Linked DNA regions of Homo sapiens. The protein of the gene in region 1 purifies or fractionates together with the protein of each later gene. This does not show direct contact. Each region holds a gene or a part of one and is shown on either strand. Other genes may lie near its edges.

Region 1 (3,287 bases):
TGTGGCAGGCGGACGCAGCTAGGCAGTGACAAGGACCTCGGCTGAGAGGACACCTGGCCGCAGCGGGATGCCATCAGGGCCGGGTGGTTGGGGAGCTGGTCTCCAGGGAGTGAGTCGGGAGCCCTGCTGGATTGATGCCCAGGGCCTGTGCGGCCGCCCTGGAGGCGGTGGCTGGGATAAACGTGCACCCAGCAGGACTCGCCTTGGCTCCGGGTTTTGCTTGTGCTCACATGTGGCACCATCCTTGGTTGCCCTCCTGGAGAAGGCATTCACGGCCTGGGGTGGGATGGCTGGGCTGTAGTTTAGCCTGGGCCTTGGGCCCCAGTGGGGGACAGGGCCTGTCTGCATGAAGTGGACCGGAGACCTGCAGACCCCAGGAAAGTGTCACTATGGGAGGGAGGGGCAGGCAGTCAGTGGCTGGTGCCATGGGGTGAAGCCACCATGGGCTGGGGGTGAAGAGCCGGCAGGAAGGGGACCAGTCACAGGGAGTGTGGACAGTCAGGGGTTTGCTTTCTGCTCCTGAGTTGGGGTGTGCAGCGTGGAGCCCACAGCCTGGTTCTGGGCCAGGGCACAGTGCCAGGGGCTCCGCTCTGACCTCCAGGAGGGAGACTGGGCCCGGGACCCCTGTTTTCTGCTCCCTGGACTGCCTAGCCCTGAGTGCCACGGATGACCAGCGTTCTGTTTTCTCTTCTCAATAACCCTATCTCTTCACACATCCCCAGGCCCAGTGCTTGCCGGCTGTGGTGACCCTGCCTGGTGCTGGAGGGCAGTATGGGAGGCACCAGTGTGCCCTGCTCACCCCATTAGTGTCATCCTGCCATCTTCTGTGTCCCCTTGGCCCTGGCACACACCCATGTGGCAAACACGGGCCGTGAGGCTCCCTGAACAGCTTCGAGGCGGGTGGGCTTCTGGAGCCCTCTTGGCTCTGAGGACAGCCACAGTGGGGTCAGACGTCAGGGATTGGTGCAGCCCCACGTCAGGGGTGATTGTCTTGACTTTCTCTCCATTTGAGTTCTGGGGTGGGTGGCTCCCTTCCCCCTTGCTTACAGGTGCTGTCCTGGGCACAGGAGGTACGCGCCTGGCTCTGCCACTGTTCTCTTCCCTCTGCTGCAAAGCCCAGTTAAGGAAATGTCTCCAGGTCCAAAGAGATAGGATGGTCTGGGCCCCACCTGTTGGAAGGGAACAGCCAGGGAAGAACCACCTGCCTGGGCAGGGCCTCGCCTGAGGGAGGGCCTGGGGCAGGGCACAAGGGGTTGATCTCAGCCCACAAGCCCCAGGGGCAGCCCAGGAAAGCAGGCGACGGATGTGGATCCTGACCTCCTGAGAGGTGTGAGGTGCAGGGATACCCACCTCTGCCTTGACGGCCGCGCACCCCTTAGGAAGTGGCTGTCCAGCGCCTGCCTGTGCTGGGCCTGGGAGAGGAGCTGTCTTGCCAGGGCTCCCAGGCAGGGAGAGGCAGGTGAGGTTCTCAGCCGATGTGTTAGAGGTTGAGCATCGCCTGTGCCCAGCTTGCTGGCTGTCAGTGCTTGATGTGCCCATCCTCAGCTAAAACCCAGAGCTGGCATGTTGGTCATCCCCACCTCAGACGGGACGCCCAGTCCAGAGCTGGTGAGCCCTGGGCCAGCCTTTGGGCCTGGCCTGCCCCATTCACCGGCCAGCGCCCCACCTCCCTGGCTGGAGGGTCGGGGAGGGGCTGGCAGAGATGGTTGGTCCACAGGGCTAGCCCTGGGTGGTGGGAGAGGGGCCCAGGGTCAGGGTGAGAGAGAGCTGGGCCAGGGAGCTGCTGCAGGATGATTTTGAGGTGTGGGGGAAGCACTCTTGGTTGGTTTTGGTTTGCTTTTTAAAAATTGTGGTAAAATACATAACAAAAGTAACTATCGTAACCTGAGCAGTTCTGTGACATGAAGTGAATTCACTGCTTTGTGTGACCTTGGCCACCATCATTCCCCACCACTCACTCCCGCTGGGCTCCCAGCCCTGCCCCACCATTCCGCTCCCTCTACAGCTATGGGTTTTACAAAGAAGGATGCAGGGCGCCCTGACTGCGGGGTGAGGGGCAGGCCTGCCCGCGGTGTGGGCATTCGCTGAAGGGGGACGCCCAGGTGTCTGCCTGAGTTACGGGTTGGGGGGTCGGGCATGTGGGGAGGGATGGAGTTGGAGGTGCATGCTCTCAGAGCTGGTAGGGGTGGCCCGTTTCGTCCCGTGTGTGAACTGGAGATGAGACCCGGCGCCTGCGATCCCGCAGACCGCGCCCGGCCGGGTGTCACTTGTGGGCGCACGCTGCCGGGATGCTGGGCCGAGCCCGCGGTTTAAGACCCAGATCTCAGCCAGGTCCCTTTCGCCGTCCGAGCCTCTGCACCTCGTGGGCTCCGAGCACATCCAGGCCAGAGACTGCGTTTGGGGCGTGGGCACGGGAGACCGTCATCAGCCAGGACGCTCTCGACCGATCCGGCCGCGCCCCGCCCAGCCTCGTAGCGCAGGCGCTGAGTCCAGGCTGACGCGCAACTCTGGGAGCGTTGCGGCACGCGGGGCCTTGCCTACTGTGGGAGGGGCTTCTGGGGGCGGGCTTCTGTCGGGCCAATTAGGATCGCCGCAGGGAAGGCACGCGCCGCGGCTGAGCAACAGGGGCGCGCGTCACCTTCTCTAGTTAACCCGCGCGGCCCCGGGCACAGAGCCCGAGGCTGCGCGGTCCCCGGCGGGCCCGCGGACCCCCCCCATCTCTGCGCCCCCCACATCTCTGCGGACCCCGCCTCGCCCCAGCCCTCCCATCCACAACCCTCACAACCTTGCATACCCCGCTACGCTCCCCACCGCGCCCTCACATTCCTGCAGACCCCGTCTCCCCACAACGCTCCCCGCCAACGCTGCGGAGCTCCGCGTCGCCCCAGCGCTCCCTGCCAAGCCCCCCACACCCCTGTAGACCCCGCCTCGCCCCAACCCTCCGAGCTGCTCCCCTTATACCCTTGCGGACCTAGTTTGTTTCGTCCCAGTCCTCCCCGTCGCGTCTCCCACATCCCTGCGGACCTCCCCGCGCCTCGCCTCTCCCTTCTGTTACGTATCACGCACAGGTGGATCCCACTACGACCCAGCTTGGCTCCTGTCCCGCACCTCCGCACCTGGCCTCTAGCCCCGCCCTCACTGTCTTGGGAAATGAAGCGGAGGGGTGGGCCGGACACTCTAGAAGCACCCTGGCTCGGAGCTTCCCTAGCTCGGAGTTGGTTTGGAGCCCAGGCTAGGGACCCAGGGTGGGCGCAGCAGGGGAGATTGGCACCAGAAGCGTGGAGGAA
Region 2 (3,645 bases), on another chromosome or scaffold:
AAACTCCTGGGCTCAAGTGATCCACCCGTCTTGGCCACCCAAGGTGCTGGGATTATGGGCATGCGCCATCTGCTCCCTGCCTAATGATAATTTTCTAACCTTTTTCTCATAGGGAGCTTCCGATTGATAATTTATTTTAAAGGCAAGGTTTGGAAAGTCTAGAGGACCAACCATCAGGATAAAATCCAACCACCTTTGCCCGTCTCATTAAGCCCTTCACCATCTGGACCTGCACACTCGTTTCTGGACATTCCGCAGCCTGGTGAGCTGCTTGTGGCTCCCAGGCTTACTCAACTTCCTGCTTGTGCACAAGCTGTGCCTTCTCTCTAGAACTCCCTTCTCTGCCTTCTCCACTCAGCTTCAAGATGCAGCTCAAGCATTACCTCTCTGAAGCCTCCCAGATCCTCCCAGGCTGAGAGTAGTGCCTCTTTTTGGGACTTCCACGGCAGCTTTTGGTCACGTCTCTCTTGCCATGAGCATCAGACTGTATGGGAAAGGTTTGTTTTACTCTCATTCTTTCTATAATAGCAGGAGTCAACAAACCACCACCTGTGGGCCAAATCTGGCTTGTTGCCTGTTTTTCAAACGGCCCATGAGCTAAGAATAGCTTTTGCATTTTAAAATGGTTGAAAAGAATCAAAAAAAGAATAACTCATGACAAGTGAAAATTACAGGGAATTCACATTTCGGTGTCCATAACATTTTAATGGAACACAGCCCTACCTGCTCATTTATGTATTGTCCATGGCTGTGTTCACACTACAGCAGCAGAATTGAGCAGTTGTGATAGAGACTGTATGCAGCCTGCAAAGCCGAAAATATTGATGATCTGGCCCTTTACAGAAAGAGTTTGCTGACCCCTGCATAACAGCATTGACCAGGGTGGTGGGATGGAAATAGGGCCACATCCCCCTAGTAACTTCTCTAAGGAAAGCACTATGTGTAGCTATTGAACAGACAATCCAACCAACATGAAAATCAGCTACTGAAACTGAAAAATGAATGTCACAGTTCTATTTGTTTTTGTGATCATGTAAAAATTAGCATTTCATCAAGATAGAAAATTAAAACTAAGAAAAATGATAAGCACATTTCATAAAAAACATAATAAGAAAACCTACCATTCCATGGCCCCACTTTGATGAACAGGTTAGACCCATGCTGGCCACACACTGTTCCCAAGTCGACTTTGGGGTTTCCCAGTCTTCATCATCTGTGTGCCAATGCATGTTTGGGGAAGGGAGTGGTCATCAAAAAACTTTAAGGGAGGCAGATTTGACACTACTGTATGCTACTGTAATCAAGATGTTGGTCTTGGTGTGGCTCTTCCGCCATCCTGTTCTAAGGGAATCCACCTGCAGCACCTGCTGGGGACAATTGCATGTTTGATCCTCTTCTAGTCGGACCAGGGGCCAGCACCTGCCCCAAGGGTTACAAATCCCTACACTGAACTCGGGCTCATCATCTGGTGGGAAAGATGAACTGGACTCAACTCTATCTCTCTCCTGGCAACTTGGACTAAATAATACAGAAAGTCATTGCCAGTTAGTAGCCAAAGCCGAAGGTGACAGGCTGTTAAGATGTACAGTGGGAGGCAAGTGTGCTGGCTTATGCCTATAATCTTAGCACTTCGGAAGGACTGCTTTAGCTCAGGAGATTGAGACCAGCATGGGCAACATAGCAAGACCTCATCTTTACCAAAAATAAAAATAAAAAAAATCAGCCTGGCATGGTGGTGTGTGCCTGTAGTCCCAGCTACTTGGGAAGCTGAGGTGGGAGGATCACTTGAACCCAAGAGTTTGAGGCCGCAATAAGCTATGATCATGCCACTGCACTCCAGTCTAGGTGACAGGGTGAGACTCTGTTTAAAAAAAAAAAAAAAAAAGAAAGAAAGTTTCCAGTGTCTCTCCTCCAGGAACCATATTGTTTAAGAAATGATTTTATTCCAATTAGCTGGGCGTGATAGCACCCGCCTGTGGTCCCAGCTACTCAGGAGGCTGAGGCAGGAGAATCGCTTGAATCCAGGAGGAGGTAGTTGCAGTGAGCCGAGATTGTGCCACTGCACTCTAGCCTGGGCAACAGAATGAGACCCTGTTTCAAGAAAAAAAAAAAAAAAGATAGACAGTGGGGATCAAGGCAGGCCTGAGGCATACTCAGGTGGGAGGGAGTAGATGTTTGAGGAAGCAGAGGAGGTTATTTGGTAGGAGGATGGTGCAAAGCAGCCAGGCTAAGTCATGTTAACAGGGAGACTAAGGAAGGAGCATCCATCATTTGCTGATGCTGACTGAGCTCCTTTAAGCTGCCTTGAATGTGGAACCACCTTCCAACTGCATATCAAGGAGCCCGTCCTAACACTATTAGTAGTAATGATGGTGATGATAGTAAACACAGACATAACATTTACTATGAGTTAAGTAGTTAGTAGTATTCATTCTATACTTATTAACTCGTGAATCCAGACAATAATCCTATGAAACCAAGAGGATCACTATTTATAGATAAGAAACTGAGGCACAGAAAGGTTGAATAATTTGTCTACAGTCCCACAACTGGTAACTGGTAGCTTTGGTCCCAATTGACCTGGTTCCAGTGACTGTGCACATAACCATAACACAGCATTGCTTTTATTCCTAGATTACCATGTAATTCCATGTGTTTCTGTCCACAATATCCCTCATCCCTTTATCTGACCTTACTCAAGTAGATCTTTATTCCATGCAACCAACTGTACATGACTAGGATAGAAATTGGTAACAGGACTGATGTTGTAAAGAATGGACCCTTGGAGAGAATGTCTGGTGTGCGGAATTGGTTCTGGCGTACAGCACAATAGACGACTCTAGACATCCCCCCACATCTGGGAGTGAAATACAAATAAACTGTTATATGCAAGAGTGAAGGAGCTAATTAAACTATGGCTTACAGGTTTTTGAGACTCAGACTCTAAGCCCAAAAATGGCAAGTCTTTAAAGGGCTTTCTAGGTACTGCCTTTGATCAGTGAGGAGGGAATAAGGAATATCAGGTGGTAAAATGTGTTGGTTACTTTTTATGGCCCTAAGTAAAATGCAAGGGGAAAAAAAATGCGACAAGTTCCTATCCTAGGTGCCTCAGTTGGAACACAAGGAAAATTGTTTTATCTTACAATAGTGGTTCTTAAACCTAAGCATGACTTCAAATCACGTTGAGAGCTTGCTAAAATACAGATTGCCAGTCCCACCCCAACCTCCAGAGCTTCTGATTTAGTAAGTCTGGTGTAGGGTCCAAGAATGTGCATTTCTAGCAAGTTCCCAGGTGATATTCATGCTGCTGGGCCACAGTCCACACTTTAAGGACCACTGCCTACAGCATAAAGCCCTTTCCTCTCATAGTTGAAAGGCAATCAAAAATTACACCATAGAAGTTCCAACCATGCTAGGTTTCCATGGTCAAAAGTAACTCTCAGATTGGCAACACCAGAAGCCTGGTATTCCAATGAATGGAAGTACCTGGGAAGAGGTGAAGGAGTAAAGGACACCATGTAACCTAAAACTAAGGAAGGAAGGGGCCCTGACACATCAGGCATTAAGAAAAAGACAATGATTAAGGGAGTATGAGGTGACCAGACTCCCAGAAAGTGTTGCTGCTGAGTAGAGAAAACATTTCCA
Region 3 (4,342 bases), about 86 Mb from region 1:
TGGCCTTCCAGAGGAGAAGGGGTGGTGGCCCAGGGCCCCGGGGGACAACAGGATAAGGATGCAGGGAGGTCACCTGGCTGCTCAGGCAATGCCCCAGGGGCCTTTCTGGTGACTCCCAGCTGCTCTCTTGGGAGGGTCCCACGAAAAGGAAAGGCAGTGCCAGGAGAGCCCCTTGGGGCAGCTGTAGCCCACCCTGGGGCCTTTGTGGGAACAAGAAGGGGTCACCTCTCCCAGCAGAGAGGCTACAAAAAGCGCCCCCCCCACCAGCTGATGCAGCAGCCACAGCCCTCACCCAGGCCCCGCCAGGTACATTCCTGCAGCCCCATGAGGAACGAGCTCAGGGACCCCCTCCTGCCCCTGATGCCCTCCACCATGGCCCTCGCCCCCAGGCTGCCCCCACAGGCACCCACTCACCGGTTCTGCCCTTGTGGTCTGAGCCGGGGCCTGCCCTGGAGGCCGCTGTGGGGGAAGGGTGCCCCCCTGGAGCCTGGGTGTCCTCGAAGGCCCCCGCGGTCTGTGGAGCTGATCCCAGGGAAGTTGGTTCTTTTCGGCAGCACCTGGAGCAAAGGCCTGTTTTGAGTCCTCCTCAAGGAGCAGCCGAGACCCAGCTCACAGCCCCCGCAGCCCCCACCACCCCGGAGCATGGGGTCCTGCCCGGCTCAGGATACCATTCGGGCCTACAGGGTTCCCTGCCTTTGCCTACCATAGCTGTCATATGACACCCCGTCACGGCCAGCACCCCTGCAGAGGGGGGGGTCACGGCCAGCACCCCTGCAGAGGGGGGGGTCACGGCCAGCACCCCTGCAGAGGGGGCTCCCGCCCGAGAGGGGACACTTCCCCACCATGCCACTGGCAGACCAAACCCAGCTTCAGGTCCGAGGGTCCCGCCACATCCTGTCCAGGCCCAGCCAAGCACCGTGCCTGAGACACGCTGTGCAGAGAGGAGCCAGCTGGGGCTGCTGTGTGTCCCAGGGCCAGTGGGCCAGCCCCTCTGCGCTCATGTTCCTGGACCTGGGGAGCACCGGCGCACCTTGATGACCCGGCCCCGGAAGAGGCTCTGGTCCAGCTCCACGGCGGCCTGCACGGAGCCCTTGGTGGCAAACTCTATGTAGGCATAACTGAGGGGAGGGGCAGGGAGGGGAGGGGTGAGGCTGGGCCCTGTCCGCATGGCCAGTGCCCCCACCAGGCCCCACACTGACCCCTTGGGGTGTCCAGAGAACTTGTCACACAGGATCGTGACTCGGTGGACCTCCCCACAGCGGCTGAAGTGGGCCTCCAGCTCCTCGGCGGAGCCCCCGTAGTCCACCTGCACCCAGGCCCAGACCAGCATGTGAGGGAGACGCCTGGCCCTGACTCGGGGCCTTCTTGTTAGAGGTGAGGAAAGAAACCCCAAGGCTGGGCCCCGTGGCGGGGATGGCCCCAGGCCTCCACCCCACACCCCCGCTGGGGTTGGAGGGAAGAGAGGAAAGGATATCTCGTATGGAGCGCTTCCTTCTGGAGAGCTGGAGCCTTTTAAAAAGCTTCTCAAAAGTGGAGATTTCATGTGCAACCCCGAATTCCAGCTCATGTTGAAAAACTGGAATATGTGCCCAGGCCAGTGTTTCCTCAAGGTGACGGGGCTGCCCCCAGGGTCAGACCCCCTTCCCAGCAAGGCTGCCTGGCCCATGGCCGGGCGCCAGACCCTCTGGTAGAGATGGGGCCCCATTCGCTGCCTGCCCCTTCACCCCGCCCACCACTCACGTTGCCCACGTAGACGGATCTGTGGTCAGCCTCCACCTTCTCCTCGGGGGTCCCAGAGAGGGGGCAGCCTGCGGAGAACACAGCTCAGGCCCGCAGGCCCTTGGTTCCTTCCTCACTCCTCTCACGGGGAAGGTCGCCCAGGCTTATAGGGGAGGTGACACCTTGGAGCCTGCCAGGCCCAACCTTAATGGAAACTGTGGGACCCTTGCTCAGTGGGGGGCGGCCTGTGCCCTTGGTTCCTACCCACGGTCTCAGGGCTCAGCAGCTGCCCGGCCGCGGTGCCCTCCTCTTCCTCGGCCTGTTGCTGCACTCCTGGAGGCCGTGGCGTCCCCTCGGCCTGCTCCATGGCACACACCTTCATCTTGATGGCCTCCAGCTCCTGCCGACACACGGCCCTGAGCCGGGCAGGCAGCCTGCAGGCTCTGCTCAAGGAAGGTGGGTGTGTGGCCTGCCAGCTCCAGCAGAGGGTCACAGCCCCAAGGGGCAGCCCTTCTCTGGACAGGGACACTCCTTCCTGGGGCAGCTGGCTGGGGATGAACTCGCCCCTGCAGAGAAGCCCCCGAAACCGCACCTCAAGGGCCCTTCCCCAGGCGAGAGAGGCCACCTTGACCCTGCAGTCTGTGTGGCTGGGGGCGGGGGGTCTCCTTGCCACCTTCGTCCAGGCAGGTGGGCAATGGCCCTCTCCCCTCCTAAGTCAGCTGCAGCCATCCGTCACCCAGACCCCGTGTCTCCACCAGCCCCTGTGCCCCAGGTCCCCTGAGATCCCCAGGGCCTCCACACAGCTGTTACCTGGTCAGGCAATGGGCACTCAGCCAGGTTCTCTTGCTCCAGCAGAGACAGCAGAAAGCCTGCATCCCCATCCTGGTCTTCCTCTGCATCCTCTTCCTCCTCTTTCTCCTCCTTCCCTTCCCCACCCTCTGGCCCCAGAATCTCCTTGGTCTCGTTCCAGGCCCCCCAGCCCTGGGCCTCAGGGTCTGAGGAGACCGTCTGGAGCCAGGCCTGAGTCGGGGGTGGGAAGAGAGAGCGGCTCGGGAAGGGCCACATGGTAGAGGGGCAGGAGGAAGGTGGGCCAGGCGAGGCCTCCCCTCCACTCCCCTCGCGTCCGCACCTGCCCAGGCTCTCCTGGAGTTTTAAGCCCTCCCCTGAGGCCAGCTGCTCCCACTAGAGCATTTGCAAAGGCTGAGTGGGGCTGAGCTTCCAGCCTTGGCTCCCGGCCCCGCCCCTTCCCTGTCACTCGGACAGGTACCTCCAGGACACTCTCCCTGGAGGAAGGAGAGGCTGAGTTGAGTGGGGGTCACCGGTCTCTTCTGCTTCCGCCTGGCCACGCTGTGGCTCACTGGAGCCTTGGTCTGTGACAGGGTTCACACCTCAGCAGCATCCACACGGCACGAACGCCACACTGCATGAACACTCGATCTAAGTGGGAACACGGGAGTGGTTTCTTCTAGTACCAGGGACCAAGCAGGCTGGAGAGGTGGCTTCCGACCAGGAGAGGCAGGGCCTGAGCAGAGACCGAGAGCAGGTGCATGGGATGAGAGGGCCGAGGCAGGTTGGGGCGGGGTCCTGGGCCCAGAGGAGGGGCAGCAACAGCTGTCTCTGCATCCTGACCCCCATGGAGTCCCCAGGGACCCTTGCCTCCCTAACCCTTATTCTGGGCCTTTTTTTTTTTTTTCTTTTTTTTTTAGGCAGGAGTCTTGCTTTGTTGCCAAGTCTGGAGTGCGGTGGCGCGATCTCGGCTCACGGCAACCTTTGCCTCCCAGGTTCGGGTGATTCTCCTGCCTCAGCCTCCTGAGTAGCTGGGATTACAGGCACCTGCCACCATGCCCAGCTAATTTTTTTTGTCTTTTTAGTAGAGACAGGGTTTCACCATGTTGCCCAGGCTGGTCTCGAACTCCTGACCTCAGGTGATCCGCCCGACTCGGCCTCCCGAAGTGCTGGGATTACAGGCGTGAGCACCGCACCTGGTCTGGGTCATCTTTTAGGTGGGAGCCACTTCCATGAGGCCAGAATTATTCTGCTGTGGGGCGGGGGCTCCGTGGGGAGTGACGGCGTGAGTTATTGTGGGGCGGGGTCTCCGTGGGGAGTGACGGCGTGAGTTACTGTGGCGGAATTCAGTGGGCATCCGGTGGTGTCTGCACCTGGCTTCACCCATGCAGGGTTGCAGCAGGAGGTGACCCGTGTCCGCCCTTGCGCCTCCCTCTGCACCTGCCACCGCGGCTGCTGGAGTCTGCTCTGGCCTTCATCTCCAGTGCTGCCGTCTCCCACCCACTCTGTGAAGGACTCGGGGCCAGGGGGTCATGCATGGCTCTTACCCCTGCCATTGGTGGTGGGAGACGGGGCCCCCTGCACAGCTCCTACCCCCAGGCCGAGGCCATCCTCTCTGTGACTGCACCCCGGTGTTTAGCCAGTGGGGCTGGGATTCCTGGGAATTTGGGACTGGGGGAGGAGAGAGAGACAGGGCGTGGCCTAGGCTGGAGCTGCACTGCTGCACCATGCACCACCCACGCAGGGCGGCCCTTCCTCCATCTTGGGCTGGGGGCTCGGGGAGCAGGTGGACATGGAGGCTGCCACAGCCTGGGAACCCAGGCTCCTGCACCCAGTC

What was found.
Region 2: the proteins of CEMP1 (region 1) and PLXNC1 purify together in Homo sapiens (affinity purification with mass spectrometry; one large-scale study listed by BioGRID and IntAct). This does not show direct contact.
Region 3: the proteins of CEMP1 (region 1) and PABPN1L purify together in Homo sapiens (affinity purification with mass spectrometry; one large-scale study listed by BioGRID and IntAct). This does not show direct contact.

What each region holds. Positions count from the first base shown.
Region 1 is NC_000016.10:2,529,535-2,532,821, forward strand, and holds CEMP1 (cementoblastoma-derived protein 1), read right to left. Parts: upstream 1,875-3,287; 5' UTR 1,540-1,874; coding exon 796-1,539; coding exon of another isoform or gene 723-795; 3' UTR 501-722; downstream 1-500. Other genes in the region: AMDHD2 (N-acetylglucosamine-6-phosphate deacetylase), read left to right, coding at 723-1,225. UniProt on the Homo sapiens protein: May play a role in development of the periodontium which surrounds and supports the teeth by promoting the differentiation of multi-potent cells from the periodontal ligament into cementoblasts to form the cementum.
Region 2 is NC_000012.12:94,154,949-94,158,593, reverse strand, and holds part of PLXNC1 (plexin-C1 precursor), read right to left. Parts: intron 1-3,645.
Region 3 is NC_000016.10:88,863,823-88,868,164, forward strand, and holds the start of PABPN1L (embryonic polyadenylate-binding protein 2), read right to left. Parts: upstream 2,839-4,342; 5' UTR 2,785-2,838; coding exon 2,530-2,784; intron 2,120-2,529; coding exon 1,984-2,119; intron 1,809-1,983; coding exon 1,741-1,808; intron 1,307-1,740; coding exon 1,200-1,306; intron 1,119-1,199; coding exon 1,031-1,118; intron 558-1,030; coding exon 415-557; intron 1-414. UniProt on the Homo sapiens protein: Binds the poly(A) tail of mRNA.